7 linked regions of the Homo sapiens genome follow. The protein of the gene in region 2 purifies or fractionates together with the protein of the main gene of each other region. This does not show direct contact. Each region holds a gene or a part of one and is shown on either strand. Other genes may lie near its edges. The genes, in order: SRSF12, NADK, NAV1, GIGYF2, DCLK1, KIF1C and SIPA1L1.

Region 1 (4,245 bases), on a different chromosome or scaffold from region 2:
TCACACCACTGCACTCCATCCAGCCTGGGTGACAGAGTGAGACCCTGTCTCAAAAAAAAAGAAAACACGAAAAAAACCTCCCTAGATTCTCAGACCTCTCTTGGAGGTTCTGATTCAGGAAGTATGGATTAGAGGCTGGAAATCTGTATCTTTACAAGCACTCCAGGTGGTTGTTATGCTTAATTTCCAGAAACACTGACCCAGCATATCCACCTCTGAAAGTTATTATAAGACCTAATAAGTAATTGTTTCACTAAGAACACATTCATTTTGCTTCACTTTAATTTCATGTTTATGTTAATCTTGTTTTCAGATAGCAAGAATTAGATTCTAAAGAAGTCCTAAAATTATTTATCAGGCTTTAAAGAAAAATGGATGTTTTAATATTAAACATAAAACAAAGTAACTACTGTATTCCCAAATCTGACAGGTATTTCGAGCCTGCTTATGTGCCTTCTAGTGCGATTAGGTGCTTCAGAAGGGGTACCAAAAAAAAGAAACAGCATGATATTCATCTTCATGGAGCTACAATTTAACTGAAGAGACAAAATATTTAGCAATAATAGCTAACAGTTACAGTGCATTTATATGTTAGCCAGTGTTCACCTTACAACCACTTAATTCTTACAATTTCCCTGTGGTTATTTACAGATGATACAGACAGATTATGGGTGATACAGACAGAATTTCAGGTTATTTACAGGTAATACAGGCAGATTACAGGTGATACAGACAGAGTAACCTATCTAAGCTCACTGAGCCAGCAAGTGACAAAGCTAGAAATCAAATTTTCAGTCTCATACTGGTCCATCTTAACCACTACACCCTACTGCTTCATGGTGCTATCATAGGGATTCAGCATCAAGCTATGATCATAAAATGTGGCTCGGGAGAAATAAAGATTCAAAGATGACTAAGAAGCTTCTAGCTTGGACAAATGGAAAAAAGATGGTGTCAGTGACAAAAATTAGAAGAGAGCTAGATCAAGGAGGAAGAAAAGAGGCAAAAGAAGCAACTTTCAGGTTTAGAAATGCAGTATTTGAGGTGATGGTAGAACACTGATAAGAGTTCTATAAGCAACAGAAAATTGTGATTATATGCATATTAATTAGTGTGTATTAATATAATTATTAGAAGCCAGTGACTAAGGCTAGAGATGGGGATTTAGAAATTACATATAAGATTCAACAAAAATTGACTAAGCATCTACTTTTTGCCAGTAGCTCAGTCAACATTATGACATACTTTATTTCATTTAACACTCATAGAACATGTTTTACTATTAGTTTCTGAGGACAGTGACAATGTCTTTTTTCTTTTACTTATTCAGAATTAAGCAAATACTTATTGAGCACCTACCATGTGCCAGGCTCTAGGAATATAATGAGAAACAAGAAAAACACAATTCCTGCTCCCACAGACCATAGACTGGCATAAAGATTCTCAACCTCTCCTGAGTACTGTAATCATCTGTGAAGGGATGTTACAGACAGAGGCACCCCAACCCGATGCATTAATTCTGGACCTAATTAGTGTTTTCCATAGTGAGGCCCAGTTATGTTTAATTTTTTCAGGACTTCACAGGCAATTCTGAGACTGAAGGTTAAGAATCACTGCTAAAGCAGGTGTCTTCACCAGCATATCTCTGTACCTAATGTAGCTGCTGGGCACACAGTAGGTACTCAATATATATTTGCCTATCAATGAAAAAAGAATACATTACTGTTACCATTTAAGAGTTAAGGAGACTGAGGGTGAGAGAAGTTACCTTGCCCAGAGATCTACACAGCCAGTAGTAGAGCTAGGATTCAAATGAAGGTCTTCTGAGACAACCAATCCCATCAACCAAATGTAGTGGCTAAGAGGAAAGGGATCATAGATAATATAAAAGAGGAGGCTGCAGCACTGTGTGCCACAGAGGTCTGGAGTCTGGAAGCCAAGGGTGATGGGAGTCAGATGGAACAGGTCTTTTCAAAAGAGCCAATTCCCATTCACTGTCTCCACTCCCTCACCTGTTAGCTGTTGTTTTATTTTTGCACTTTTGGTATGATCTACTTCAATATTCAAAAAAGTACAGAGAATAATAAACACCCATGTATCTACCAACAAGATTTATTTTCTGGCCGGGCGCGGTGGCTCACGCTTGTAATCCCAGCACTTTGGGAGGCCGAGGTGGGCGGATTACGAGGTCAGGAGATCGAGACCATCTTGGCTAAGAGGGTGAAACCCCATCTCTACTAAAAATACAAAAAATTAACTGGGCGTGGTGGCGGGCGCCTGTAGTCCCAGCTACTCAGGAGGCTGAGGCAGGAGAATGGTGTGAACCCAGGAGGCGGAGCTTGCAGTGAGCCAAGATCATGCCACTGCACTCCAGCCTGGGCAACAGAGCAAGACTCTGTCTCAAAAAAAAAAAATTATTTTCTCCGTATTTGACATACTTGCCATAATTTTCAGTATTTTTAAAGAAATATTATATCCTTCTGTTACCAATGGAGGGTCTTGCCTATGAGTCCTCCAGGTTCTTGGCATTTTTAACAAAGAATTGGACAAAATGCACAAAGCAATGAAAAAATGAAGCAATGAAAGCACAGATTTATTGAAATGAAAAGATACTCCACAGAGTGGGAGCAGGCTCAAGCAAGCCACTCAAGTGCATTGGTTACAGAATTTTCTAGGGTTTAAATACCCTCTAAGGTTTCCCACTGGTTACTCGGTTACACCCTATGTAAATGAAGACTTGGCCCACCACCAGTCTGGTGGAGGGAGGCGACCAATTAGAGGCTGAAGCAAAGCTACAAAGTTACACATGAAGACTTGGCCTGGGACCAGTCTGATTGGTTGTAGGAGGGGACCAGTCAGAGGTACTTTCCATTTTTTATCTGTAATACAGTGCAAAGGGAGTAGCCTCTGATCCTTTTGTTACTTGGGTGTAGAGAGGTGGAGTTCTCCTTTTGATTCAGTTCTAGGAAGTCACTGTGAATCGGCCTTAGGTTCCCTGCCTCCAGACCCTATTCTCCTGCTTCAGTATCACTAGCAAAGAAATTGGTAGGCTGGAGGGTATGCCTACCTTAGCTTCACTACATGTTCTTCAGAGTGGCCCAACCAACTTACATTTCCAAAAACATGTGTTAGAATTCCCACTGTTGCCCAGGCATGGTGGCTGATACCTGCAATACCAGCAGTTTGGGAGGCCAAGGTGGGAGGACTACTTGAGCCCAGGAGTTCAAGATCAGCCTGAGCAACATAGTGAGACCCCCATCTCTACAAAAAATAAAAAAAAATTAGCTGGGCGTGGTGTCTATAATCCCAGCTACTTAGGAGGCTGAGGAAGAAGAATCACTTGAGCCCAGGAGTTTGAGACTGCACTGAGCTATGATCATGCTACTGCACTCCAGTCTGGGAAGACAGGGTGAGACTTGTCTTTTTTTTTTTTTTTTGGAGATGGAATCTTGCTTTGTCACCCAGACTGGAGTACTGTGGCACAATCTCGGGTCACTGCAGCCTCCACTTCCCAGGTTCAAGCTATTCTCGTGCCTCAACCTCCCAAGTAGCTGGGATTACAGGCATGTGCCAGCACACCTTGTTTATTCTATTATTAGTAGAGATGGGGTTTTGTTATGCTAGCTTTTAAAATTCCTCTTGAAAATATGTTGTAGTTTTTGGTGCAAAGGTTCTGCACATTTTTTGTTAACTGTTTTCCTAAGTAAGTATGCCTTTTGATGCTATGGTAAATGCAACTGTTTTTTAAAATTGTCATTGTTTTCAATTGTTTGCTGTTAATATATAGAAATAAAGTTTTTGTAAATTTACCTTATATCCTCATAACTTACTAAACTTATTAGTTCTAGCAGTTTTTTTGTTCATTCCCTAGTATTTTCTATGTAAGCAAATATGTCACCTAAGAATGGTTACTTTTATCTTTCCAATTTTTGTATTTTATATCTTTTTTCTTGCCTTGTTGCACTGGTTAGGACCTGCAATAAAACGTTGGCGGTTGTGAGTGGCAATCTTTTCTTTTTCCTGATTTTATAAGGAAAGCATTGTCTTTCATCATTAAGTATGATGTTAGCTATGTTTTTTATAGCTGACATTTATTAGGTTAAGAAGTTCTCTTCTATTCCTAGTTTGCTCACACGTTTTGTTGTGTTTTTGTTTTTGGAGACAGGGTCTCAGGTCTCACTCTGTCACCTAGACTGGAGTTCCATTAATACACTATATTTAACATTAAAAAATTATTCCTTTATG
Region 2 (4,245 bases):
GACAAGGACGCTCTTTGGGGACTTGTTCCACGTCAGCCGCTGGCTCGCGGGGTCCTGAATGTGCCTTTAGGGGAGGAGAAAAGAGTTCACACCAGCTGCGATCTCCCTCTTGCGGAAAAGGTGTATGACTTAGAAAATAAAAAAAAAAATCTTTAAAAAGGTGTTTTCACCTCCCAGGGAAACGTGCTCGGTGGCCACGGGCTCACAGGGCCTAGGGTCGCGCCACAGAGACAGGGTCAGGGGTCAGTAGGGTCCGGAGTGACCACCTCTCACCTGCTTGGCCCATCACACGCAGGCTCAGGCCCACAACCCCCACCCGGGCACCACGCTGACCCAAGTGCACGCACCACAGCCCTTCCCAGCCCCCGGCCACTTGCCTGCCTGGCTCCTCAGTGACGCTGGTGGGGCAGAAATGACCACGAAAGCCCATGGCTGGGCCACTCTTTGCTTGATGCCCTCCTCAGGCCCCCACGAAAACCCAAACCAGTTGACATGGTGACTCTGTCCCTAGGATCCTCTGCACACAGTTTCTGGCCCCACGGGAGCCCAGGACCCCTCAAGGACCCGCTTCCCCCCCTGCACACAGCTCACTACCTCCCTGCATGAACGGACTTTAACCTCACTCACTCTCACAGTAAAAATCACAGGTTTAAAAGTCCGTGGCAGCCCTGACACAGCCACCCGCGCTTTGCTGGCTCTGACCCCGACCACTGTGCCCGGTGTTTCTCCACAGGCAGGGCCCACCCCGGTGGGATTCCCATTACCACGTTAGTCACAGAAAACATCCCAGCCCAGAACCGGGAACACACACCACGGAGCCTGCTCCTGTTCCCAGAAGCCAAGGGAGGGCGCAGCGGGGCTGGCCACCGTCGTCAGCGCTCACCGCCTATCCTCAGCCCCAAAGGACAAGTTCTTATACCACCGCGCCAGCCAGCTAGTTCCAAGTTGCCCAATCGAGAAAGCTGCTGCCTGCCATGCCTCTTCCCAGCAGTGACTTCCCCAGGAGTGTGACCGTCCCACTAACACCCCCAGAACCACAACACAGACGCCGATGGCAGCCACAGGGCCACAGACCTTAGCCCATCGCTTGTGACCTTCGGAAGCTGGTCAGCACTCACCCTGTGCAGGCATTACTGGGAGGCGTGGGGTCACTCATGCCATCCCCTATGAGCTCAGCACCTGCCGGGTCACACATGTGGCTCGCGAGGTAGCCCCTGCCTGCTGGGAGCCGGCCAGTGTGTCCACAGCATCCAGGCCACGCTTGGCGAACACGCGGCCGCCCCATCGGTATGGTCCTGACTGTGCGCCCACACTAGAAGCCTAAGCTCTTCATACTCAAAACTCAAAGCAAAACACAATTGTGATGAGACTTGGTAAAGTTGTTGTAAAAGCAACTAAGTCAAAAGAGCTTCCTACACTTATAAAAATCAAACAAAACAAAACAGTTTCCTCATTGGTCACATGGTCCTCCTGCCTAATCCCTTCTGAAAAAAAGTCCTCAGTTCAGCAGCAAAGAGGCCACACTTCAGCTCCCTGCTCCTAACTGAGCCGGGTGGGACCAAGCCCTCTGTTCCCGTGGCCTCAGACCTGGCCAAGTACCCAGCCTCCAGCCTCGCCCCAGCACTGCGCCAGCCACCGCTCTGGCCCGCGGAACCGGCTGGGCCCCAGGGAAGGCACCCTCAGGCCACAGTCAGGTGGAAGGGCGTTCCCTGCCTCCTAGCCCGCTGCGTCACTCTGCTTGGCTCCGGCCCAAGGGCGTGCAGGTGGCTCACGGTCCTCCGGCCTGGTCAGCCAGCAAAGCCCCCGCCCTGCACACGGCTCCCCCTGCTCTCCCCGCCAACAGTCACCACTGACCCAGTGGCCTGGCCTACACCCATTCCAGCCCTGAGGCTCAGCTGAGCCCAGCCAGAGCCACCAGCAGCGGCGTCGTACACCGGCCCAGGCACCCACCGCTGTGTGTGACCACAAACCAGCGCCTCGACCTCTTCCTGGGTCACCTGCAAAGCAGGACACCAGCCCTTGCAGGCACGCACGGCTGTGGGTACTGCACGGAGAGGGCAGGGGGTGGCGTGAAGCTTGCAGGCACACACGGCTGTGGGTACTGCACGGAGAGGGCAGGGGGTGGCGTGAAGCCAGCATGGCCACAGCCTGGCCCGCCTGGCCAGCTCCTACTGAGACTGTCTCACACATGGGTGGCCACGCACACTGTGACACACGGGCACTCACGCACCTCCACAACACAGGCCCACCAATTCCCTGGACAACAAAACAGGAAGCGGGTGCCCTCCTCACCAGGCGCCCCCACAGGGTCTTGCTCTGGACTATCAGGGAAGACGGAAGTTCAGATGCATGGGAAGCCCTGCCCCTCCACAGCGGGGATGGGAAGCGGGAGGTTATGATCCCAGAGACACAGAGCCCAGAGGGGGCGTGCTCCCATGGGGGTGCCGAGAAAGCTGCATGCCCCTCAAGGCTGCCCCACAAACCCACCGCTTCCTCCTGCGGGGCTGTCTGGCCTCGGGCAGCTCGGGGACCACTGAGTACGCCCTGGTCTGAGGGCTGAGGCAGAACATGCACCTGTCCGGTGACCCCGCCCTGGCCCGAGTGACTGACGGCTGGTGAAGGCAGCAGCTGAGATGCGAGTGACAAAGGAGTGGCTCTGCCAGGACCAGGAAGTGCAGGGAGGGCACCAGGCAGCGGGGGAGAGGCCCGGTGGGGTGCCAGGGACACAGCAAGCACAGGATGGCGGGACAGAGCCACGGCGGGGCCGGGAGGGCAGTGGAGCACTCTGGGTCACCCACGTGGCTGCTGTGCAGGGAAGGGATGGTGAGGCCGCGGCGAGTGGTCAGGAGTCCACACAGCGGAGGGCAGCCGGGCAATAGTGCAGGGGAGCTGCTTGGATATTTTGGGATCAAAGTGACAGAATCTGCAGATGGACTGGATGAGGGAAAGCAAACAGGGGTCGGGCCCCCCGCCTCAGGCATTTGGCAGCAGTGACAGGTCACAGACACTCCGGGAACCAGTGGCACTGAAAGGGCTGGGCCTCAAAAGCACAAGTGCGAGTCACTTCCATCCTAAGGGGCTCCGTCAGCGTCTGGAGCAGCAAGGCCAACCCCCGTCCTGCCTGGGACGCACGCTGCCGCGGGGCCCACACTTTGCAGAGCAGCTCCTCGGATGACTCCCCCGTGGCTCCTGGGACCTGAACTTCGGTGACAGCCCAGGGCTGGGGCCTCCGTCCCTGCTGTGCGCCCCCAGCCTCCATGGCACCGGTGCCTGTCAGCAAAGGGCCATGCAGTGGCCGCCCCCGTATCACACGGCCGCATTGCGCTTTCTGGTCAACAGTCCCCAGCAGCCTGCGCGCTGGAACACTCGGCCCTTCCGCATGGTCCTCCCTTGCAGAAAGTGAAGCATCCATGACTCCGTGAAGGAGGAGGCCCTGAAGAGAGCCCGTTCTGCACAGAGGAAGAGAGCCCGTTCTGCACAGAGGCCTGAGAGCTGAGGCACCAGTCCCAGAAGCAAAGGCTTCTCTGGGGAAGAGGCAATGAGGATGTCTACCAGGTGCAGAATACGACTCTCAGGGCTGGCTGGGAGCTCACTTTTTTCTCTGGAGACAGTCTTGCTCTGTCGCCCAGGCGGAATGCACTTTGATAATCACAGCTCCCTGCAATCTCAACCTCCCAGGTTCAGGTGATCCTCCCGCCCCAGCCTCCTTGGCAACTGGGACTACAGGTGTGTGCAACGATGCCTGCTAATTTTTGTATTTTTCTGAGTCTGAGTCTTGCTCTGTCGCCCAGGCTGGAGTGCAATGGTGCGATCTTCGGCTTACTGCAACATCTGCCTCCCGGGTTCAAGCAGTTCTCTGTCTCAGCCTCCCAAGTAGCTGGGATTATAGGCACGCGCCACCATGCTTGGCTAATTTTTGTACTTTTAGTAGAGATGGGGTTTCACCATATTGGCCAGGCTGGTCTTGAACTCCTGACCTCGTGATCCGCCCCCCTTGGCCTCCCAAAGTGCTGGGATTACAGGTGTGAGCCACCGCAGCTGACCAATTTTTGTGTTTTTTGTAGGGATGGGCTTTCACCATGTTGCCCGGGCTGGTCTCAAACTCCTGGGCCCAAGTGATCTGCCTGCTTCGGACTCCCACAGTGCTGGGACTGCAGGTGTGAGCCACTGCGCCCAGCCTGGATTATAATTCTTTACACATAAAACACAGATATCAGATCGATCACTGTTGCGTTTTTCCCATGA
Region 3 (3,417 bases), about 200 Mb from region 2:
GTCTGGGCAAGATATACAGACTCTGTCTATAAAAAAAAATAAAAATTAAAAAAAATGCAGGGCAGAGTGGCAAGCATGTAGTGGCAGAAAGGATAGAATGTTGTTGGAATGGGAGGTTCTAGAGCAAACAGAAACAGGTATTTTTTAGTGAGCTGTTCAGGTTATGTGCCTTCAAAATGGTTCCCAGGAACCCTTATCAAGTGAGTTCATTCTCACATGGCAAAGGAAACGAGTTACCAAATCCTAGGTCACTTCCAAGACTGTGGATGCTGGACTGGTAACAATCAGGGATTAAGTCATCTCATCAGAAGATTACTTCAAAAGAAAGCTTTCTCAATTATTTATTTTTGAGTTGGGGGGGTCTTGCTATGTTGCCCAGGCTGGACAGGTGATCCTCCCACCTCAGCATCCAGAGTAGCTAGAACTACAGGTACACCCACTGCAACTGGCTTGAAGAGAGTTCTCAACACACTTGTCACCTCCCATGTTAAGAGGGCAGAGATGAGTTATGTTACTACAATTTCATAGGGAAAAGATTGCTTCTTGGACCCTTCAATTTTGCAATGGGGAATAGTAAGCCTATTTACTTTCTTGAAGTGGCCAAAAGAAGTTGAACTTGATTACAACAGCTTCTAATAGGTCAGTTCACTTTTACCCCAAGAAGAAAATTTAGCAAAGTCAAGAGGGTGGTATGTTTTCAAACACTGCAGCAACCCAGATGGAGGACTCCGGAGCCTTGATGTTTGGGCTGGATGTTTTGAGATCCGGTGAAGGATTCTATGTCCATAATGTGCGAGCAGGGGTTCCTCCCACCCCCAACCATGGGAGTCAGGAGACTCTAGCTTAGGGTTTCAGGTTACTTCTGGGTTAGGCAAATGACCACAAGCAGTCTGGCCTTGCCAATCAAGGAATGGGCCACAAGATAAATGGAGACAGAAACCAGGCAGAGAGGGAGCTAGAGAACCAGTGGACAGTACAGGAGATAACTTTATTGAAACGCAAATGGCATTGAACAGATGAATCTTGCTGGGAGGAGACATGCCAGATGGACAGAGGGCCCAGATTGGGGGTGGCCTCAGTGGTGATGAAGGAAGGCCTCTTCAGCTGGCTCTGGCATGAATTTTATTTTTAAATAATTTGTTATTTAAAATGAATTACTGAGGGGACAGCCCGGCTCTCTCTTCATGATTGTTACCGCAACTATATACAACAGTTTGCTTTCCAGATTCAATTTCGCTTTTTCTACATTAGATATAAAAGGGGGTAGGTTGAAAGAGGGGAGGGTCAAATAAAAAACATAAACACACAGACATACACATATCCTGGTTTGGGATTTTGCACCCAATAACTTAAAAAAAAAGTGTTGCAAAAACTTCTGCCCACTCTCCACCTGAGGAACACCATGCATTTGAGAAACACGGACTCTGTCACATAAACGGTGCTGCCTAAAACAGTATGGAGGCGGGGAAGGAAGCTAGCAGGGGTTGGAATTCATTTTGAAAAAAGATTGTTTTGTTAGAAAAAGCAAAAACAAAAAAGCATTAGAAAGTGGGAGCCACTGCACAGCAGTAGCCTAGAGACTGGCTGCGATATGGTAGCTCTGCCTTGATATCATCTTCGTGTCTTCAGGCATAGAGAAATGGCAGAGGAGCAGTAAGACCCCACAGGAGATGGCCAGAGGATCCACCATCAGCCTTCTGGGGACTGAGGAGGTGATCTTAGTGGAATTATTTTATACTCACCTCCCCCGGGGTTTAGTCCTTCCTCCAAACACTTAGTTCCAGGGCGCAGGAGACCTGTTACTAGCACTGTATGTTTCTTTGTGCTTTACCCAAGTTCTCATACAGGGAAAATTGACAAACTTGAAACAAAACCAGTTCTAAACAGCCTCATCTCCTCCATGGCCCAATCAGCTATTTTATGAGTTTGTAAAGATATGAAGCTTTTTTCAGATATTTTTTAAAAAGGATCTTATTTGGCAGGGTGCTGTGGCTCACGCCTGTAATCCCAGCACTTTGGGAGGCTGTGGCAGGTGAATCACCTGAGGTCAGGAGCTCCAGCACAGCCTGGCCAACAAGGCAAAACTCCGTATCTACTAAAAATACAAAAATTAGCTGGGCGTGATGGCGCACGTCTGTAATCCCAGCTACTCAGGAGGCTGAGACAGGAGAATCGCTTGAACCTGGGAGGCGGAGGTTGCAGTGAGCCGAGATCGTGCCACTGCACACCAGCCTGGGTGACAAAGCGAGACTCCTTCTCCAAAACAAACAAACAAACAGAAAACAACAAAAAAAGGATTTTATTCTGTCACCTTGGCTGAGTACTTCTGTATCCAGGTCCTGCTGTGGGGAAAAGAGAGGAGGAGCACAAGGACTGAAGTGCCCAGGTCTGTGTCTTCATTATGCAAGACTCTCCTATGAGCTGAGTGGAGTGTGGATAAGGGGCCTTCCTGGGATACTGGAGCCCTACACTGTTAGCTGCCATACAGAAGGAGGTTCTGGCCTGGTTCTCAGGCCCAGCAGTGCCCTTTATAACTCAAATAAAGGAGAGGGATGTTGCTGGGAGAACACGTTGTCATGGAAATACAAATTAGATTTTTTTTTTTTTTTTTACTTTTTCCATCCTATTACATAATCAGCTCGGAATAGATACAAATAATTCGGCAGAAGAGCAATCTGGAAGAGACCTCCAACTGCTTTTCCTTGTTGAAGCCCCTTTGTGTGCCAGGTAGTAATTTCCAAGGCATAAGGTTTTTCTCTGAAGGTTGTATTCAACTAGGAAAGACACAAACATTCTCCTAACTTCCACCCAAAAGCACACATACCTTTCTTTGTTAAAATCATAAATGGAAAAACAGAAACACAAGGAAGCATGAGAAAGGTGACTTTGAAATTAATGTTAAAGTCTGAATGACAACCTAGAACCTTCTTATTTTGGGCCCCAAAGCCTCTCAGTGTGGGAACTCCAATACTATAAAGGGCTTTCCCTTTAAAACAGTTGAATTTAGTGTGCATCAGAATCACCAGGAGGGCTTATTAAAACGTGGATTGCCGGGTCCTCTCATTAGAGTTTCTGATTCAGCAGATCTGGGATGGGATTGAGAATTTTCGTTTCTAACAAGTTCCCAAAGGCTGCTGATGCTGCTGGTCTTGTGCCATACTTTGCGAACCACTGCTTTAAGGAATGAGAAACCAGGGGATCACTCACTTACTTCCATGACCACCCTTGTCACAGAAAATTCTCCATGGTATAATCATGAAGAAGAATGACCAAACCATCAAACTGGAAGGATCTAGTATACACAGGTTGAATTTTCAACCGTCTTCGTGTCCCTGCAGCTTTGGCATTTTGATAGGTATCCTCCCTTCAAGGCTACATCTTCTGGGTTACTACCACCTTTCCCAGGATCTGTGGCCG
Region 4 (4,245 bases), on a different chromosome or scaffold from region 2:
TGCAAAAAACATTTTCTGATTTCCTTCCAGTTTATCTCCATATTCTTTTTACTGAGCTTTCATAAATGTCCTCTTTCATTTTAGTTCAGCTGAGGAATTTTAATATTTTGGTTTTGAAATGCTTTTGCTGGTGAGATGCATATGTGAAAAACACTTTGGAGTAGGTTTGCCTCAAAATCATGAGAAGATGGAAATTACAAGGTCAGTGTGTGAATGCAACTCCTTGGCTAAAAGGGAGGCATAGTGATGGTAGTGATGAGGTAGTGTTTTAACTAATTGCCTTTCTTCCTCTTGTTTTTCTATTGTGTTTTTGAAATGACATTTCCAAATTATGTCTTTGATGTCATATCAGCTCATTTGTTTTCATGACTCTGCATTTTAATACTCCATATTGTCTCTTCTCTTTTTGTTGACCTTCACATTGGAAGATGACACTGTTGATAGTGATTGCTATCTGGGAGAACCTTTTTGGGTAAAAAGATTACTACTGTCGCTTTTATGATTGCCCTTCTGTAGGATCTTTGACTTGTGCCATTTTCAAATTTTGACTTTGTTTGCAGTTCTCCATTAGCTCCTGCTGATTAAATTTCCCATACTTTCTGTTTTATTCTATTTCTTATAGATTATAGTGGGACCAGTCTCATTAGGTTGAATCTACAGCCTATGTTGGTGTTAACCCAGGTCTCTTAGAGGCAAGTTAAATGTCCATTTTCCTTCAGTTTAAATTACCATGGCATATTGTTTGGTCATTGTTGTAACAGTCTGAACTCAAGCTTTTTTTCACTGCTTGATTCCCACTAGGGTTTTGTGGTGATAAAGTCCTATGGTTTTTGCATGGGAGAGTATTTAAGAATAAAAGGAAAAATATATAAAATGAAAAAGAAATAGAAGTTTAAAATAAGATAAAAAAGTCCTAGAGTTTCCATTCATTTTTAATACTTTGAAAAATTACATCTCTTTAAAACTAGAGATTTTTATTTCATGTATAAACTTGCTTATAGTTAGCATTGCAGTGTTTCTTGACCAAATATTGTTTTTACATTTTATTCATGCTCTCAGATGAATGAGAAATATACTAAATTAATTATGTAGGAATGTAAAGTGATACCTTTATTGAATTGCCTATAGTTTTGTGTGAGGTTGAAAGCAGAAAGAGGTTTGAAAAACAAAGAATGTTCTCTTAATTGACCAAACTTCATTTTATAAAGGTATTTCAAAGTATTACATACTTCCCTACTTTAAGTAAATAAGGAACACAATTTTATATTTTCTTGTTAACTATGGGGTTTCATTAAGCTTAATTATTATTATTATTTGAGATGGAATCTCACTGTGTTGCTCAGGCTACAGTGCAGCGGCCTGATCTTGGCTCACTACAGCCTGTGATAGAGCAAGACCCTGTCTCCTGGGGGTTTGGGGTTGCAGTGAGCCGTGATTGCACCGCTGCGCTCCAGCCTAGGTGATAGAGCAAGACTTTCTCCAAAAAAGACAGGGTCTTGCTCTGTCACCTAGGCTGGAGGGCAGCGGTGCAATCACCACTGACTGTAACCTCAATCTCCCAGGCTCAAGCCATCCTCCCACCTCAGCCTCCTAAGTAACTGGGATTATAGGTCCATGCCACCACATCTGGCCAATATTTTTTGTAGAGATGGGGTCTCACTATGTTGCCTAGGCTGGTCTTAAACCTCTGGTCTCAAGTGATACTCCCGCTTCAGCTTCCCAAAGTGTTGAGATTATAGGCATGAGCCACTGTGCCCCACCAAGAATGCAATTTGAGAAAGTCACATCCACTTCTGATTTAATTTTGCAAAAAAAGTAGCCATGTTATAATGTCCAAAGGTCATCCAACTTTACCCACTGAACTGTGTAATTTTTTAAGGGCAGGAGGAAAGGGAAGAAGAAATGGATAATAAACTCTTCTTTGGCTGGGTGCAGTAGTTTACACCTATAATCCCGGCACTTTGGGAGGCTGAGGTAGGAGGATCACTTGAGCCATGAGACCAGCCGGGGCAACAGAGAGAGACCCCCATCTCTAAAAAAGATTTTTAAAAAATTAGCTGAGTATGGTGGTGCACGCCTGTAGTCACAGCTACTCAGGAGGCTGAGCCCAGGAGGTCAAGGCTACAGTGAGCTCTGATTGTACCACTACACTCCAGCTGAGGGAACAAAGCAAGATCCCATTTTGAAAATAACTGGCCGGGTGCAGTGGCTCATGCCTGTAATCCCAGCACTCTGGGAGGCTGAGGTGGGTGGATCACTTGAAGTCAGGAATTTGAGACCAGCCTGGCCAACATGGCAAAACCCTGTGTCTACTAAAAATACAAAAATTAGCTGGGCATGGTGGTGCACACTTGTAATCCTAGCTTCTCGGGAGGCTGAGGCAGGAGACTTGCTTGAACCTGGGAGGCGGAGGTTGCCTTGAGCCCAGATCGTGCCACTGCACTCCAGCCTGGGCAACAGAACGAGACTCTGTCTCCAAAAAAAGAAAAAAAACTCTATCTGTCTCTATCTAGTTGCTTTCCTGTAGTTAATGAAATTGTCAACTTTAATTGTTAATTATTGTTCTTTGACTTGTTAGTAGCAGTAAAGCATCATTTGATTTTAGCCAAGAAACTATTTGAAGATACTATACTTCAATTCACTCTTGTCACTTGGAATATCACCAACTTATGGATTTTTAAGATATTGCCCCAACAGAGCATTAAAGGCAGGTTGTGATTTTGCACACTTGGAGCTTTGCTCCCTGGACATTTTGGCAATGATCATATTTCTGAGGGCTCAGTGATTATTTGCATAGGATGCATATTGCTGTGATGCGGCTTTTGTTTTTCTGTTAGATATATATTTTTTGAGATAAGGTCTCACTCTGTCACCCAGGCTGGAGTGCAGTGGTACAGTTGCAGCTCACTGCAGCTTTGACCTCCCTGGGCTCAGGTGATCCTCCTACCTCAGCTTCCCGAGTAGCTGGGACTACAGGCATGTGCCACCATGCCTGGCTAATTTTTGTAGAGGTGGGGTTTTGCCATGTTGCCCAGGCTGGTCTTGAATTCGTGGGCTCAATCGATCACCTTCCTTGGCCTTCCAAAGTGTTAGGATTACAGGCATGACCCACTGTGCCTGGCAGTAGGTTTTAAAAGTTAATACCAAGTCCCTATAATGGGGTTTTGAATGAAAACCCCAAATAATGACTTCCCTGAAACCCCATGGTGGTCTTCATTTGACAGCTTCATAAGAATCACTTAGGACTTTTGTTAAAAAATATAGTTTTCAGTCCCACTGTAGAACTACTGAGACTTTCTAGATGTTAGGGAACCTAGTTTATAAATACACCAGGTGATCTACTCTTTTAACCAGGTTTGGAAGCCATTTTCTGCAAAGTATATTTATGATGAAAGATTGTACTTTTAAAGTTTCCTAAGAGGTTGCTGGGTGATTTATATTAATATTTTTATTATTTACAGCGTTAAAAGGATCTGAACAAAGTCTGCTCAAATCTCCTGCTGTGAACCAGCAGAATTTTTGAACAGGTAAGTGTGGAAGGGAAGCACAAAGCCTGAGGGCTTTTGCAAATAGGTAATTTCTGCTTTTAGGTTTTAGTTATTTTTGCCCTATTATTTCTCCTGAGGTTTTGGGTAGTGAGAAGAAACTTCTTCCCTGGTGCCTGTCAGATCCTTTATGAACAGTAAGAGTAACATACCCTTTCTGCATTGACCCTGGTGTGAATTTGTGTCTTAAACTGTCATAATAATTTTTTGTTGGCAAGAAACAAGGAGGAATGCTTTGGAGGCAGGAGTACTGTAAAGAACCAAAGAGCAGTTGACTTCATGAGGGACATGAACCAGAAACTGGGAAGCTTTCAGGAGCCATAGTACTTGTAGATAGCACTTTTTTACCAGCTGGCCAGTGTCCTCTCTTGTCTCTTTTTGTCCTGCTTTAATTGTATTTGTGCAGTCTGGCCTTTTCTGCTTTAACAAACACAAACTCATGGTAGCAAATGGCCACTTAATTCTTGGAGCCACATATGAACTTAGGCTCTAGTGCCAGTAGCCAATTGATGCTAGCACAGTGTTCACATTTCATATTCTTGGGAGGGGGAAATTTGGCTGGTTGAACTTGGTTCGGTTCTTTGTCATTGATCACATTAGTTATGGACATAGGGTTGGAGTCTAGAAGTGCAAGCACAGTTAGCTGAAAGGTCCCACTCCTAATGGTGGGGGCAGGTCTCAGAGAAGGTAGAATGGTGAC
Region 5 (4,245 bases), on a different chromosome or scaffold from region 2:
CTATATTAAACACCTAAAATAAATGGCGGCAATTATTGACTCATTTACAAGCATCTTTTGAGCTTTATAACAGGCAATGAGGATTCATGATCAAAAGATACAGAGAAGATGTAATGATGGATTAATTTATCAACAGCTACTGGGATGTCCTCAAAATGGCAGTTATGATGCTTTCTCATGGCTTACCATCGAAATCAGTTTATGGCTACCCATACTTCAGCTGAGTAATTCCTAATGTTTTCCATATTGGGAAAACAATAAATTGTTTGCTCACTCTAGCATGCTAGCAGTGGTAGATTTTTTTTTTTTTTTTTTTTTTTTTTGAGACGGGGTCTCACTCTGTCGCCCAGGCTGGAGTGCAGTGGCGCGATCTCGACTCACTAGCAGTGGTAGATTTTATAAAGTACATGGCCTATGTGAAATGTCTATAAGATAAAAATATAACATCTCTGGGTTTTTTTCTCTTCACTAAAGCATGCTGCAATGTTGTACAGATCTTTGATGTTGAAAAGTAGATAAGATAGGGATGTGCATTTATTTTCTACTTAAAGAGCAATCCAGTTTGTCATTGCTGTATTTCAGTGGGAAGGGGATCATTGGGAAGTGCCCTATCTATGTTCTTTATAGTATAAATCACCTACTTAGGCACTAGCTGTTCTATGTTTCTAAGGACGGATTCAAGAACCACAGATTTAGCAGCTCAAGAAAGCCAGATTTGCTTTTCCATAAAAGGAGTCAGGAGATATGCAAGGGTATCTTTGTAGCAAATCTGGTAACTTTTAGTCTTATTTTAAGCACTTAAAAAATAGTTATACTCCAAATGGCCTCTGGGAGTAACTGCTTGGCAGGTTAAGTGAATAACCCACAGCAAAGTTCCAACATCCAGAGCTTGGACTTGGGCAAGAGGAAGAGACTCTCAGACTCTAAGATCCTGCAGATCCTCCCCTTGGACATGGGTTCAGGGGACATGATTTTAACTGTTAGCTAGAAAATGTCCCTTTTTCTTCTTTGGAGGTCTTTAACCAAGGCCCAGATTTAAAAAAAAAAAAAATGCATCACTGAAATTAAGGCATGGTAAGTGCTTCCTTGAACTGCCAGCCATGCCAGCAAAAGGACTGATGACCTGGTGAGCAGTCACCCTGAAAGTTGCAAGGAAGAGGAGGAAGGTCGGGGCAACCATTTGCTGAAGCTTCAGTGCCCCTGAATAAAGAATGGAGTTGAAATCATTAGAAAGGGTTTGCTCACACATAGGCTGCTTATGAACCACAACGGTCATCTTGGCCAATTGCAGCTTCCTGCAAAATCTTTTCTAGATTGTGCAGCATTTCCAAAACGTTTATTTCCTTATCTCAGTCTAAAAACATCAAAAAAAGTACTGTTCAATGAACTCTTTGCTTAGGGCTAACACAAACCCGAGAGGCAACTGAGCAAGGAGTGGTGGTAGAAACAAGTGAGAACAGCATGTGGTCTGTGCCCTCCGGTGTCCGTCTCCTCTGGGTAAGATATTAAACAGCAGGCTCCGGCTTTCATGGTTCCATTGTCCAAAATCCCAGCGTCAACAGTTTTCATGCCATGGATACATCTGTAGGCTGCCCCAAGGCAATCTACAAAACCATCTTCCTCTCTACGCATTTACTCAAAGCACTCAAGCAATTCATTTTTTAAACAATTCTATTTCCTCAACCCAAAAACATGAAATTCTTTACTGGGCACTGGAATTCCCATATTGTTTATGGAGTTGATGTGAGGGTTCAGTTAAACTATTTTTTAAAAAGGTGGGACAAGTAATCTTAGGGTGGCATCTTGTTGGCAGCATATGGACCCCGATGCCACCACAGGCAGGCCAAGATGGTAGCAGTGCAGGTGCCACCCCACTATGGCCAAGCGTTATTCCACAGGACAGCGTGGAGGAAACTGATTTATTCTCAGAGGCTTATCAAGCCTCAGTCTCTGCCAGGGTTGTCAAAAATTCTACTCTAACAAACTGCTTATGGGACAGATTTCTCTTTTGAGCCAAAAAGATTCTAAAGACTCCTGGGGTCCATGAGGAAGCATCTTTGTTCTCACTGGGAACCCAACGAATAAGTCTTTATGTTCTTTCCACTTTATCATCCAATTCCTCTGCAGCTTTTCACTGATCCTGCTATGAAGAGAACATGCCAACACTAGGGGAAATGCCACAGCAGCAAACTGAACGCTTGACAAAACAACAGTTGAGTACAACAGTCAGCAGAATGACTGCAGGGAAAAAAAGGACAGAGCAGAAATGTTTCAGATGATATTCTTTGGACAAATTACTCCCTTGACAATTCTTTCTCAATACATTTACATCAGTTTGGTGCCTTAACATAATCTAAAGTGGTACAGTGGTTACCAGCACAAGCTCTGGAGCAAGACCAGTTTAAATCGTAGCTGTGTGGTCTTGTGCATGTTTTTAACGAGTTCTGTGCCTTAGTGTTCTAATCTGTTAAATGGGGATAATAAGCAAGTTGTTATGAGGATTAAGCATGCTAATACATGCAAAGCACTTTGAACAATGCTCAATAAAGCTATCATCATTATAGTTCAAAATTGCTATTGCATGTATCATCATAGTTGACCCACAGCACTCTATAAAACACAGGTAATCATTTTATCTGTGTTTCACTGATGAGGATAATGAAGCTCAGTTAAGTGTTTTGCTAAAAACATAAGGAATCTACGGCTGAGCCAAGACTTGAATCCTGGTTTTTTGACATTAAACCTCGGATTCCGTCCCATGACTTTGGATTATTTACATGTAAACCACAGTAAACTAGCCATTATCAAATATTAATTCTAGACAAATTCAGTAAGGAAGAAAACAACTGAGAACATCATACCTATTGTAGGGATTTATTCCTGAAATAAACAAAATTAAATAATCAGCTGATGGCAAATTTTAGCTAAAGTCATTAAAGCCGATTTTTAGATTCAGAGTAGCATTTTGGAACTCCCAAAATTCTGAAGTGCAGCAGGGAGAGGGAACATTTATCCATATGTATTCTTTGCTCTAATGAGACACTTTATAAAAATATTTATTTGAATAGGTAAATATTTATGAAAATAGATGAACTCCCATCTTGAGAAAATTCAATATATGAAAATTCAGAACTACAAGATGTTTGAATAACTCATTAGAAATGGAGCCAGTGAAGGGCTTACAAAATGTGTAAAGGTGAAGTTTGCCATCTTATTGCTACTATAATTCACAAGCCAGCATGAACTTTCTGGTCATTGATAGATTTACGACATTTAGGCTACAGACTCTTAAATATAGAAGACTAAGTCTCATTCATTAGAGAATCTCATCCATTAGAATCCTTATCCGCATATTACTTAGGGCAAGGGTTATAAGCCAAGCAAAAGATGGTAAATACAAATGAACAACTGGCACATATTCCTTCTTTCCTAATGAATTTTATAATTTAGAGCATCTGAATGGATCCCTAAGGGAAGTATTCTTTCATGACTAATACTCTTTCTAGGATTAGCATCTATTTCTAATTCAGAAAGTTTGAATGCGCTAGCCTTTAAGAACTTGGAGGAGTCTTCTATTTAATAAGATCAATCTTTTAATTCATGGATCATTTTAATTTTAATATTTACTATACATACAAATCATTCAAATTATCCCTCAAAAAAAATTTTTTAAAAAAGCATTTTGATAGCACCACATTAAAAACTAAACTTCCAGCAAAGATAGTGTGCTCAAAAGTATAATCTGGTAAACTCTGAATGACTAGCAAATCATGCTGTACATATAATCAATTTTTTTTTTTTTTTTTTTTTGAGACGGAATCTTGTTCTGTCACCCAGGCTGGAGTGCAGTGGTGCGATCTCGGCTCACTGCAAGCTCCGCCTCCCGGGTTCACGCCATTCTCCTGCCTCAGCCCCCTGAGTAGCTGGGACTACAGGCGCCCACCACCACACCCAGGTAATTTTTTTTTTTTATTTTGAGTAGAGACGGGGTTTCACCCTGTTAGCCAGGATGGTCTCGATCTCCTGACCTCGTGATCCGCCTGCCTCGGCCTCCCAAAGTGCTGGGATTACAGGCGTGAGCCACCGTGCCCGGCCCTAATCAATGTTTTTTAATTCAACTCACCATCAAGGTTCTGTCAAACCTGTACAAAAATAGTCCACCCAAGACAATAAAAGGTGATGCTTCCTTTGGGTTCATCTGACCAACTCACATTAAAATGACCACCCATCCAAGTCAACTGATGT
Region 6 (4,245 bases), on a different chromosome or scaffold from region 2:
GATATAAAACAAAAAATCCCTGCTCTCATAGAGCTTACTTCTGTCTGGTAAGACAGACAATAAACAAGATAATCTAAAGTCATTTAATCGTGATGGATGGCTTTTCTTTTTTCTTTTTTTTTTTTGAGATGGAGTTTCACTCTTGTTGGAGTGAAACTCTTGTTGGAGGCTGGAGTGCAATGGTGCGATCTCAGCTCACTGCAACCTCTCCTCCTGGGTTCAAGCAATTCTCCTGCCTCAGCCTCCTGAGTAGCTGGGATTACAGGCATGCACCACCACACCTGGCTAATTTTGTATTTTTAGTAGAGACGGGGTTTCTCCATGTTGGTCAGGCTGGTCTCCAACTCCTGACCTCAGGTGATCCACCCGCCTGACCTCAGGTGATCCGCCCGCCTTGGCCTCCCAAAGTGCTGGAATCACAGGCATGAGCCACTGTGCCTGGCCAGATGCCATTTATTAAAACTAAAAGAAGAGGGGGGGAAAAAGGCATTTAATTCTATTAATATTTTTAAAAGCAGATAATCTAAAGTCCTCTCTAAAGGGAATAGGGTTGGGCACAGTGGCTCACGCCTGTAATCCCAGCACTTTGGGAGGCCGAGGCAGGTGGACTGCTTGAGCTCAGGACTTTGAGACCAGCCTGGGCAACACAGTAAAACCCTGTCTGTACGAAAAGTACAAAAATTAGCCAGGTGTGGTGGCACAGGTCTGTAGTCCCAGCTACTCAGGAGGCTGAGGTGGGGGGATCACTTTAACCCGGGAGGTTGAGGCTACAGTGAACCATGATCATGCCACTGCACTCTAGCCTGGGTGACAGGGCAAGACCCTGTCTCAAAAAATAAAAATGAAAATGAAAATAAAAAAGGAGGGAATACGTGTTATGCAGGGAAAGTGGGGCTGGGTGAGAAGACTGCTCCAGCTTGGCCCAGGCAGCCTTACCCTGAACCCATGATAATCTGACAGTCTAGGGCAGAGCTCACAGCACAGCCCCTGGTGCCTGCCATCCTGTGTCTGAATCCAGTTCTGCCATTTTGTGTCATCTTTTGCAAATCACCTAACCCCCGAGAGCCTCAGTTCTCTCACCTGTGAGCTGTGTGAGAAAATGCGGACGCACAGAGTAGATGGTCAGTAAAAACCATTCTTCTACATCCATACCTGTCTGTGCTGCCCCCGTCCTCTCTGCCTGTTTCTGGCCAGGTCTTAAATCTGCTGTTAAGAACTGAGGCCCAGGCTGGGCGCGTGGCTCACGCCTATAATCCCAGCACTTTGGGAGGCCGAGGCGGGTGGATCATGAGGTCAGGAGATTGAGACCATCCTGGCTAACACGGCGAAACCCCGTCTCTACTAAAAATACAAAAAAATGAGCCGGGTGTGGTGGTGGGGGGGCGCCTGTAGTCCCAGCTACTCAGGAGACTGAGGCAGGAGAATGGCGTGAACCCGGGAGGCAGAGCTTGCAGTGAGCCGAGATCGCGCCACTGCACTCGAGCCTGGGCGACAGAGCGAGACTCCGTCTCAAAAAAAAAAAAAAAAAAAAAAAAGAACCAAGGCCCACAGGGACTAAACCATCACAATCCCCACCCTTGGCAACACAGAATCATTGGCTGCCTTTACTGTGACCTATGTCAGTCTTGCACACGGGTGTCATCTCTCCGCACTGTAGCTCCTTGCCCATGGGCTGGCTCTGCTGAGGTGTATTTTTGGTGGCCTGTATGGCTTTCATATCTCCCCCAGCAAATGGCTTGAGGTTGCCGCAGAACAGGAACTTGGCAATAACTCACTGGGCTGAACTGATTCAACAGCTTTCAACCCAAAATGCCGGAAGCATTTGCTGTCACTGAGGACTTGAACCAGACCAGAACAACTGCCTTGATTGGCTGACCCTGAACCATATGGAAACCGAAGAGGCATGTCTTTTTTTTTTTTTTTTTGAAACAGTCTCACTCTGTCACCCAGGCTGGAGTGCAGTGGCGCAATCTCAGCTCACTGAAACCTCCACTTCCCAGGTTCAAGCAATTCTCCTGTCTCAGCCTCCTAAGTAGCTGGGATTACAAGCGTTCGCCACCATGCCCAGCTAATTTTTTTGTACTTTTAGTAGAGACGGGGTTCCACCATGTTGGCCAGGCTGGTTTCAAACTCCTGACCTCAAGTGATCCACCCACCTCGGCCTCCCAAAGTGCTAAGATTACAGGCATGAGCCACCCCACCAGCCCCAAGAGGTATGTCTTAAACCTCACTGTAAGACGCACATGATAGCGTCTTTTGTTATTTTTTAAAATGTGCTGGCCGGGTGCGGTGGCTCACGCCTGTAATCCTGGCACTTTGGGAGGCCGAGGCAGGTGGATCACAAGGTCAGGAGTTCAAGACTAGCCTGACCAACATGGTGAAACCCTGTCTCTACTAAAAATACAAAAATTAGGGCTGGGTGTGGTGGCTCAAGCCTGTAATCCCAGCACCTTGGGAGGTCAAGGCAGGAGGATCACCTGAGGTTGGGAGTTGGAGAAACCCTGTTTCTACTAAAAATACAAAATTAGCCGGGTGTGGTGGCGCACACCTGTAGTCCCAGCTACTCGGGAGGCTGAGGCAGGAGAATTACTTGAACCCGGGAGGCAGAGGTTGCAGTGAGTCGAGATCGCACCACTGCACTCCAGCCTGGACGACACAGCGAGACTCCATCTCAAAAAAAAAAAAAAAGTGCTGACCATACACACCCCAGGTCCCTTGTCCCCTGGAAGGTGTTAGGCCAAGCACTCCTAGGTCTCTGAGGCACAACACACACACCAGGTCCAAGCTGACAGACAGCACATGTGTACCACGTCCTTCCTCCCTGCCCAACTCATTTTCACAGAGACTTTGCTTGAGCTTATGTGAACCCAAATCATTCTATTTTTTTTTAAGTGTTAGAACTAAAACAAACTGGTGGCCTCAAAAATACACCTCAGCAGGTGCAGTGGCTCACGCCTGTAATCCCAGTGCTTTGGGAGGCCAAGGTGGGCGGATCACATGAGATCAGGAGTTCAAGACCAGTCTGACCAACATGGTGAAACCCCGTCTCTACTAAAAATACAAAAATTAGCCTGGTGTGGTGGCGCGTGCCTGTAATCCCAGCTACTCGGGGTTGAGGCAAGAGAATCACTTGAACCTGGGAGGTGGGGGCTGCAGTGAGCCAAGATCATGCCACTGCACTCCAGCCTGGGGGAAACAGTGAGACTCCGTCTCAAATGATAAAAAAAAAAAAAAAAAAAAAAAAAAGCTGGGGGCAGTGGCTCACGCCTGTAATCCCAGCACTTCGGAAGGCCGAGGCAGGCGGATCACCTGAGGTCAGGAGTTCGAGACCAGCCTGACCAACATGGGAGAAACCCCGTCTCTACTAAAAACACAAAATTAGCCAGGCATGGTGGCACATGCTTGTAATCCCGGCTACTCGGGAGGCTGAGGCAGGAGAATTGCTTGAACCCGGGAGGTTGAGGCTGCAGTGAGCCCAGATCGCGCCATTGCACTCCAGCCTGGGCGACAAGAGCGAACACTCCGTCTCAAAAAAAAAAGAAAAAGAAAAAGAAAAAGAAAAAGAAATCTCGGCAGTCATAGCTGGATAGAGGCAGGTTTTCCACAGGGACAAGTTCCGATATTCAAATACAGGTTTTTGTTTAAAAAGGATCAGAGTGCTAGTTGTGGTGAACAAGATCAAGAAGGGCAGGATCTTCTCTTCAGCAAAATCCCACACTCTGGCTCACTAGTGTCCCATTTCTACCTTAGAACCCTCGCCAGTGCCTGACCACACAGTAGTCTGTCTTCTCAGGGTGGGTGCAGAGGGCTGGGCCTGTGGTATTCCTCCATTCATACCCATGAGCCCCAAGCCCCTCTGAGGACAAGGCCACATCCCCTCTTTATATGGCTGCACTCCCTGGTGCCCAACCCAGACCTCTGAGTTCAGTGTGTGGGGTGGAACATGGGGCCTCTCTCCCTGTCTGGCCTCTCTCACCCCCTCAGCCATTACCTTCTCCATCTGGCTGGGGGATGCTCCGGAACAGACAGTGTTGCTCCCGAATGAACTGTCCGGTCAGCTTGATGTCCATATCTACTTGGCCGACCCTGGGGAAGCAATGGCCAACGTTTGTGAGCATGTGCCAGACTTTAACCAAGCCCCTCCTGAACACCAGTTTATCCAACTCAATGAACCAAGCCAATTATTCCCATTTCACAGATGAGGAAGCAGAGGCTCAGGGAGGTGAAATGGCTTGCCCGGGTTCA
Region 7 (4,245 bases), on a different chromosome or scaffold from region 2:
AACTTATTATTTTTAACCTCAAAAGGAAAAAAAGTAAGTTTCTCCTAAAACAACAAAGGAAGTTGTTGATATAGAAATAGAGAGGTTGAGTGTTTTATATCATTTCCCAAGATTTTAGTAAAGTTTGACATGACTGGAAATGATTCTAACACATCGAAGATCGCTCTTTCCAAATTAAAAGTGAACAAATTATGCAATTATACTTAGTATTAGGGAAACAATAAAAAAATCGGTTTCTTCTGAACTCTTGGAATAGAAATGGCATCATCAGAGAGTATGCATCTTTCAAATAAAATTGAAGAGCTCTGTTTCACTTTTTTTTCTTTAGGAAGGGTTTGCTTTAAGATATTCAGCTTTGTTTTTCAAGAAATAGTTATTTCTTGTGAAAATAAGAAAAATAAAAATCAGCAACCTCAGGAGGCAAATTATATTTCTGGTGGAATGGAAAAGCTACATGCTCAGAAGATGCCATGGGATGGCCTATCTGTTGGTTTTACAAGTGTATTTTTAAAAGACTACCTAGTTCACTTCATGACAAAGAACAGTGGCAACCAACACTCCATTTTCTAACTGGAGGAGAGAATTCAGAGACTTCCATATGGCTTAATTATACCAATATGTATTAGGAAGGCAATTTTTCTTGTCTATTGTGAACTGCCTGACTTGAACGCTGACAGCTGTATAATTTTAATTTGATCGTGTTATTTTTCTCTTAAAGTCAAGCAAAAGATGCTGAAATCCAGGTTTGCTAGATTTTTCTAAGTGGAATCCTGTAAGAATCCAGAAATATTTAATATCTTTCACTTTAAAATTGGCAACTTCTCATCTGCTATTTCACTCAAATTGTTATTCCTTCTCAGAAAATATCTGTGATTTTATTTTAAATAAGGAGAGCAAAATGTTTAGCAGGGGGTGTGATTTTAAGCACCCTCCATCTACTTGCCCCTTAAACTAACTGGCTTTCTGCAGATCCATTTATTAATTGATAGAACTTTAGACAAACATACACTGAAAACCTACCAATAATTAGAAACAGCTATAATGAACTGTGAGGAAAAGAACTGAATCCTTACCATATAATTTTCAATGATTCACTGTGGTAGGGAGGTAAATGATACAGGCACTGAAATCAGCTTCGCATAGTCAGAAATAGAATCCTTACAGAAGATGAGGAAGATGATACCCTGGAATGCTCTTTTCAAATAAATGATTTTGTTTTGGATAAATCAAACTGGCAAGGTTTCTACAAGGTTAAAAGCTCATTAATTTAGATGCCACAAATTCTGAACTCTTGATAATAAGGCCTGGTTTAAGCTAAACAGAATATTTAGAAAAAAAGCCTTTCTAGAATCTCAGTTTGCTGCATGTAGTTACTTAAGATATATTAATTATAAACGGTTCTTGGTATTTTTAAAAGCAGATTCCAAAGGGCCTCTGCTTGGCTGTATGTATATTAGCCTAGTTGGCAATTCTGTGTCTTCTTGGAAATAATACATGCTTTAAAATCATAGCCATGCTTTATTTACCCAGCATTGTTGAGGACTGGAATGTTCTACTCAGCAGGGTTATCTAGATGACAGACAGACAGAGCTAGAGGCTAAAACAGTGATGGAAAGTTATCACAGGAAGGGAACTTAACAGAACTCAATGTTCCTCAAATTCTTTCAGTAAAATCTTTGGGTTTCATTTGAAAATTCACCTCGATTTTACATTCTACTGAAAAATATTTGTGTTCATTTTCATATAAAAATATCTTCTCACTCCAAAATCTTTGGGTACACTGAGCGACCAGGAAGGTGTCTTGTTTGTATTCTGTGGTTTGACATCTTCATGAACCTCCGGTTGAGCAGCTGGTACAAATTCTTCACTTCTCCAGGAACAGATACAGAGAAGTAAAAGGATTTACCCAGATTTGTTAGAGAGAGCCAGGATTGGAATGTAAGCTTCTGGACAGCCAAGAGAGTGCTCCACGACAAGCCCACACTTACTCCCTCTGAGGAAGTGCTTTCAAACCTCCTACTCCTGAGGTGCCTGCTAAAAGGGACCATTCACATGGGTCACATGGCCTAAGAGATGATGAGGCTATTTCTACTCGATATGGGCCATGTAACATTGGTTGGCATCAAAGAGCTTGAATGAAATAACAAGTGTTGATACCCAAAGCCAACTTCAAGCTGACACATGAAAATGTTCCAAAGACTTTTTTTTTTTTTGAGACGGAGTCTCACTCTGTTGCCCAGGCTGGAGTGCAGTGGCGCGATCTCGGCTCACTGCAACCTCTGCCTCCTGGGTTCAAGCAATTCTCCTGCCTCAGCCTCCCCAGAAGCTGGAACTACAGGGGCCCGCCATCTCGCCTGGCTAATTTTTTGTATTTTTAGTAGAGACAGGGTTTCACTGTGTTAGCCAGGATGGTCTCGATCTCCTGACTTCATGATCCGCCTGCCTCAGCCTTCCAAATTGCTGGGATTACAGGCATGAGCCAACACGCCCGGCCTGTTTCAAAGACTTCTGAACAGTTTAGTGGATAAAAATTGAGAAATATAAGACATTTGAACTTTGGAAGCACAATGGAAAAACAGCAATAATCAACAATCCCCAGCCCAAAATTTAAAAGGAAGGTGATACAGAAAACATCAAATGGGAGAAGGAAGTTTCCTCTTCTTGGAGCCTGAATCAGATTACTGGCCAGGGCAGCTTCCAAGAAAGCAGATCTGGGCAAAGGACAGGAAAGATCAAACACGTGCCAATCATTCTCTCGATTTCTAATAGTATTGATCCACCAGTCACTGAGTACCTACTATGTGCTAGGCACTTTGCCTTTGCTGAGGATCAAGGCTGAAGATGTCCCGGGCTCAGCCCTCCAGAAACTCAAAGTCTGGTGGGAGCCACAGCCAGTGATTTGAGTCTCCTACTTGCGAAGTACAGGGTGCTACTGGTAGCACTTAGGAAAGGCACTTTAGTCCTGGGAGGTCCAGGGAGCCTTCTCAGAAAAAAGAAAAGCAGGAATTCATCAGATGGAGGGAAAGGGGAATGTGTGAGAGGAGCAGCATGTGCAGAGCGGAGGGGCAGAGCATGCTGTTCTGGGGAGTGGTGAGTAGCTCCAAAGGAGTGAGGTAGGCATGGGGTGCAGACTGGTAGATGAGACTGAGAGACAGGAGGCCAAACCTGAAGCCCCCATGCAGTAAGCTATGCTTGCAAGTCTGAACTTTCCTCTAAATGCTTTTAAGCACAATAAATGACATAATCAGATTCTTGTCTTAGAAAGGTCAGCTGCAGTGGACAATAGGGATGCTGATTAATTGAGGCTTGAAATAGACCTTCTGAAAGAAATTTCTATCACTTGACCTACTTGGATTTTTCTTCTTCTCAGCTGAAGCTTGCAAATTCTTTTTTTTTTTTTTTTTTTTTTACAGAGAGGAAAGAGGATGAACACAGACATTTAATGGACATGCATCACGCTTCCTCCCTGCCTATGCTAGACATTTTACTTAATAGGATTTTAAGTGGATGTCAAGCAACTTCCCACTGCACTGTTTAACAATTTGGTCTAATTCCAAGTGCTTTTTGTACTATATCATACAGATTCCTTTCAACAGTTATTACATTTTAATTACCGGGTATGGAAACCTCTCTGAGAGGAGTAACACATATTTCTACCTTCCTAAACATACCTACTGACCACAGTTTAATATTTGTTTTGAACAATCAGGGTCCTTGTTATGACTACTTATTACTATTTTAGTTTTAAAATGAATAACAACTCTTTTATTTCATCAAATAGTGTGTCAATGTTCCAATTTACAATTGTTTAGGATGTCCTAGGATTTTCTTTATAGTCTTTTTGTCTAAATTGGGATCCAAATAGGATCCACACATTGCAATTAATTTAGCTTTAAAAAATGTTTTATTCTGTAGATTCCCCTCCACTTCCTCACTATTTCTTGCAACTTACTTGTTGAAGAAATGGGGCATTGTGTCTGCAGAGTTATTCAGGGTCTGAATTTTGTCAACTACAAACATGTTCCTCTGTCTTTTGTATTTCCTATAAATTGGCTTTTCTGGAAGCTTGATCAGATTCAGATTTAATTTTTTTTAGGGGGTAGCAAAAATAATTCATAGGTGAGGTTGTATTCTTCCATTATGAGGCACATATTTGTCTCTTTTTATAGTATTTGCATCCTTTGATGATCAATGCTTAAATCCATTAATTCTGTAGTTGTTGAAAAATGGTATTATCTTACACTG

The links.
Region 1: the proteins of NADK (region 2) and SRSF12 purify together in Homo sapiens (affinity purification with mass spectrometry, with the first as the bait; one large-scale study listed by BioGRID). This does not show direct contact.
Region 3: the proteins of NADK (region 2) and NAV1 purify together in Homo sapiens (affinity purification with mass spectrometry, with the first as the bait; one large-scale study listed by BioGRID). This does not show direct contact.
Region 4: the proteins of NADK (region 2) and GIGYF2 purify together in Homo sapiens (affinity purification with mass spectrometry, with the first as the bait; one large-scale study listed by BioGRID). This does not show direct contact.
Region 5: the proteins of NADK (region 2) and DCLK1 purify together in Homo sapiens (affinity purification with mass spectrometry, with the first as the bait; one large-scale study listed by BioGRID). This does not show direct contact.
Region 6: the proteins of NADK (region 2) and KIF1C purify together in Homo sapiens (affinity purification with mass spectrometry, with the first as the bait; one large-scale study listed by BioGRID). This does not show direct contact.
Region 7: the proteins of NADK (region 2) and SIPA1L1 purify together in Homo sapiens (affinity purification with mass spectrometry, with the first as the bait; one large-scale study listed by BioGRID). This does not show direct contact.

The regions. Positions count from the first base shown.
Region 1 is NC_000006.12:89,107,689-89,111,933, forward strand, and holds part of SRSF12 (serine/arginine-rich splicing factor 12), read right to left. Parts: intron 1-4,245. UniProt on the Homo sapiens protein: Splicing factor that seems to antagonize SR proteins in pre-mRNA splicing regulation.
Region 2 is NC_000001.11:1,757,247-1,761,491, forward strand, and holds part of NADK (NAD kinase), read right to left. Parts: intron 2,657-4,245; coding exon of another isoform or gene 2,488-2,656; intron 1,998-2,487; coding exon of another isoform or gene 1,855-1,997; intron 1,397-1,854; exon of another isoform or gene 1,286-1,396; coding exon of another isoform or gene 1,119-1,285; intron 889-1,118; exon of another isoform or gene 812-888; intron 65-811; coding exon 1-64.
Region 3 is NC_000001.11:201,824,522-201,827,938, reverse strand, and holds the end of NAV1 (neuron navigator 1), read right to left. Parts: 3' UTR 970-3,417; downstream 1-969. UniProt on the Homo sapiens protein: May be involved in neuronal migration.
Region 4 is NC_000002.12:232,699,963-232,704,207, forward strand, and holds part of GIGYF2 (GRB10-interacting GYF protein 2), read left to right. Parts: intron 1-622; exon of another isoform or gene 623-692; intron 693-3,461; 5' UTR 3,462-3,527; intron 3,528-4,245. UniProt on the Homo sapiens protein: Key component of the 4EHP-GYF2 complex, a multiprotein complex that acts as a repressor of translation initiation. In the 4EHP-GYF2 complex, acts as a factor that bridges EIF4E2 to ZFP36/TTP, linking translation repression with mRNA decay.
Region 5 is NC_000013.11:36,107,039-36,111,283, forward strand, and holds part of DCLK1 (serine/threonine-protein kinase DCLK1), read right to left. Parts: intron 1-4,245.
Region 6 is NC_000017.11:5,014,584-5,018,828, reverse strand, and holds part of KIF1C (kinesin-like protein KIF1C), read right to left. Parts: intron 4,087-4,245; coding exon 3,992-4,086; intron 1-3,991. UniProt on the Homo sapiens protein: Motor required for the retrograde transport of Golgi vesicles to the endoplasmic reticulum. Has a microtubule plus end-directed motility.
Region 7 is NC_000014.9:71,666,033-71,670,277, reverse strand, and holds part of SIPA1L1 (signal-induced proliferation-associated 1-like protein 1), read right to left. Parts: intron 1-4,245.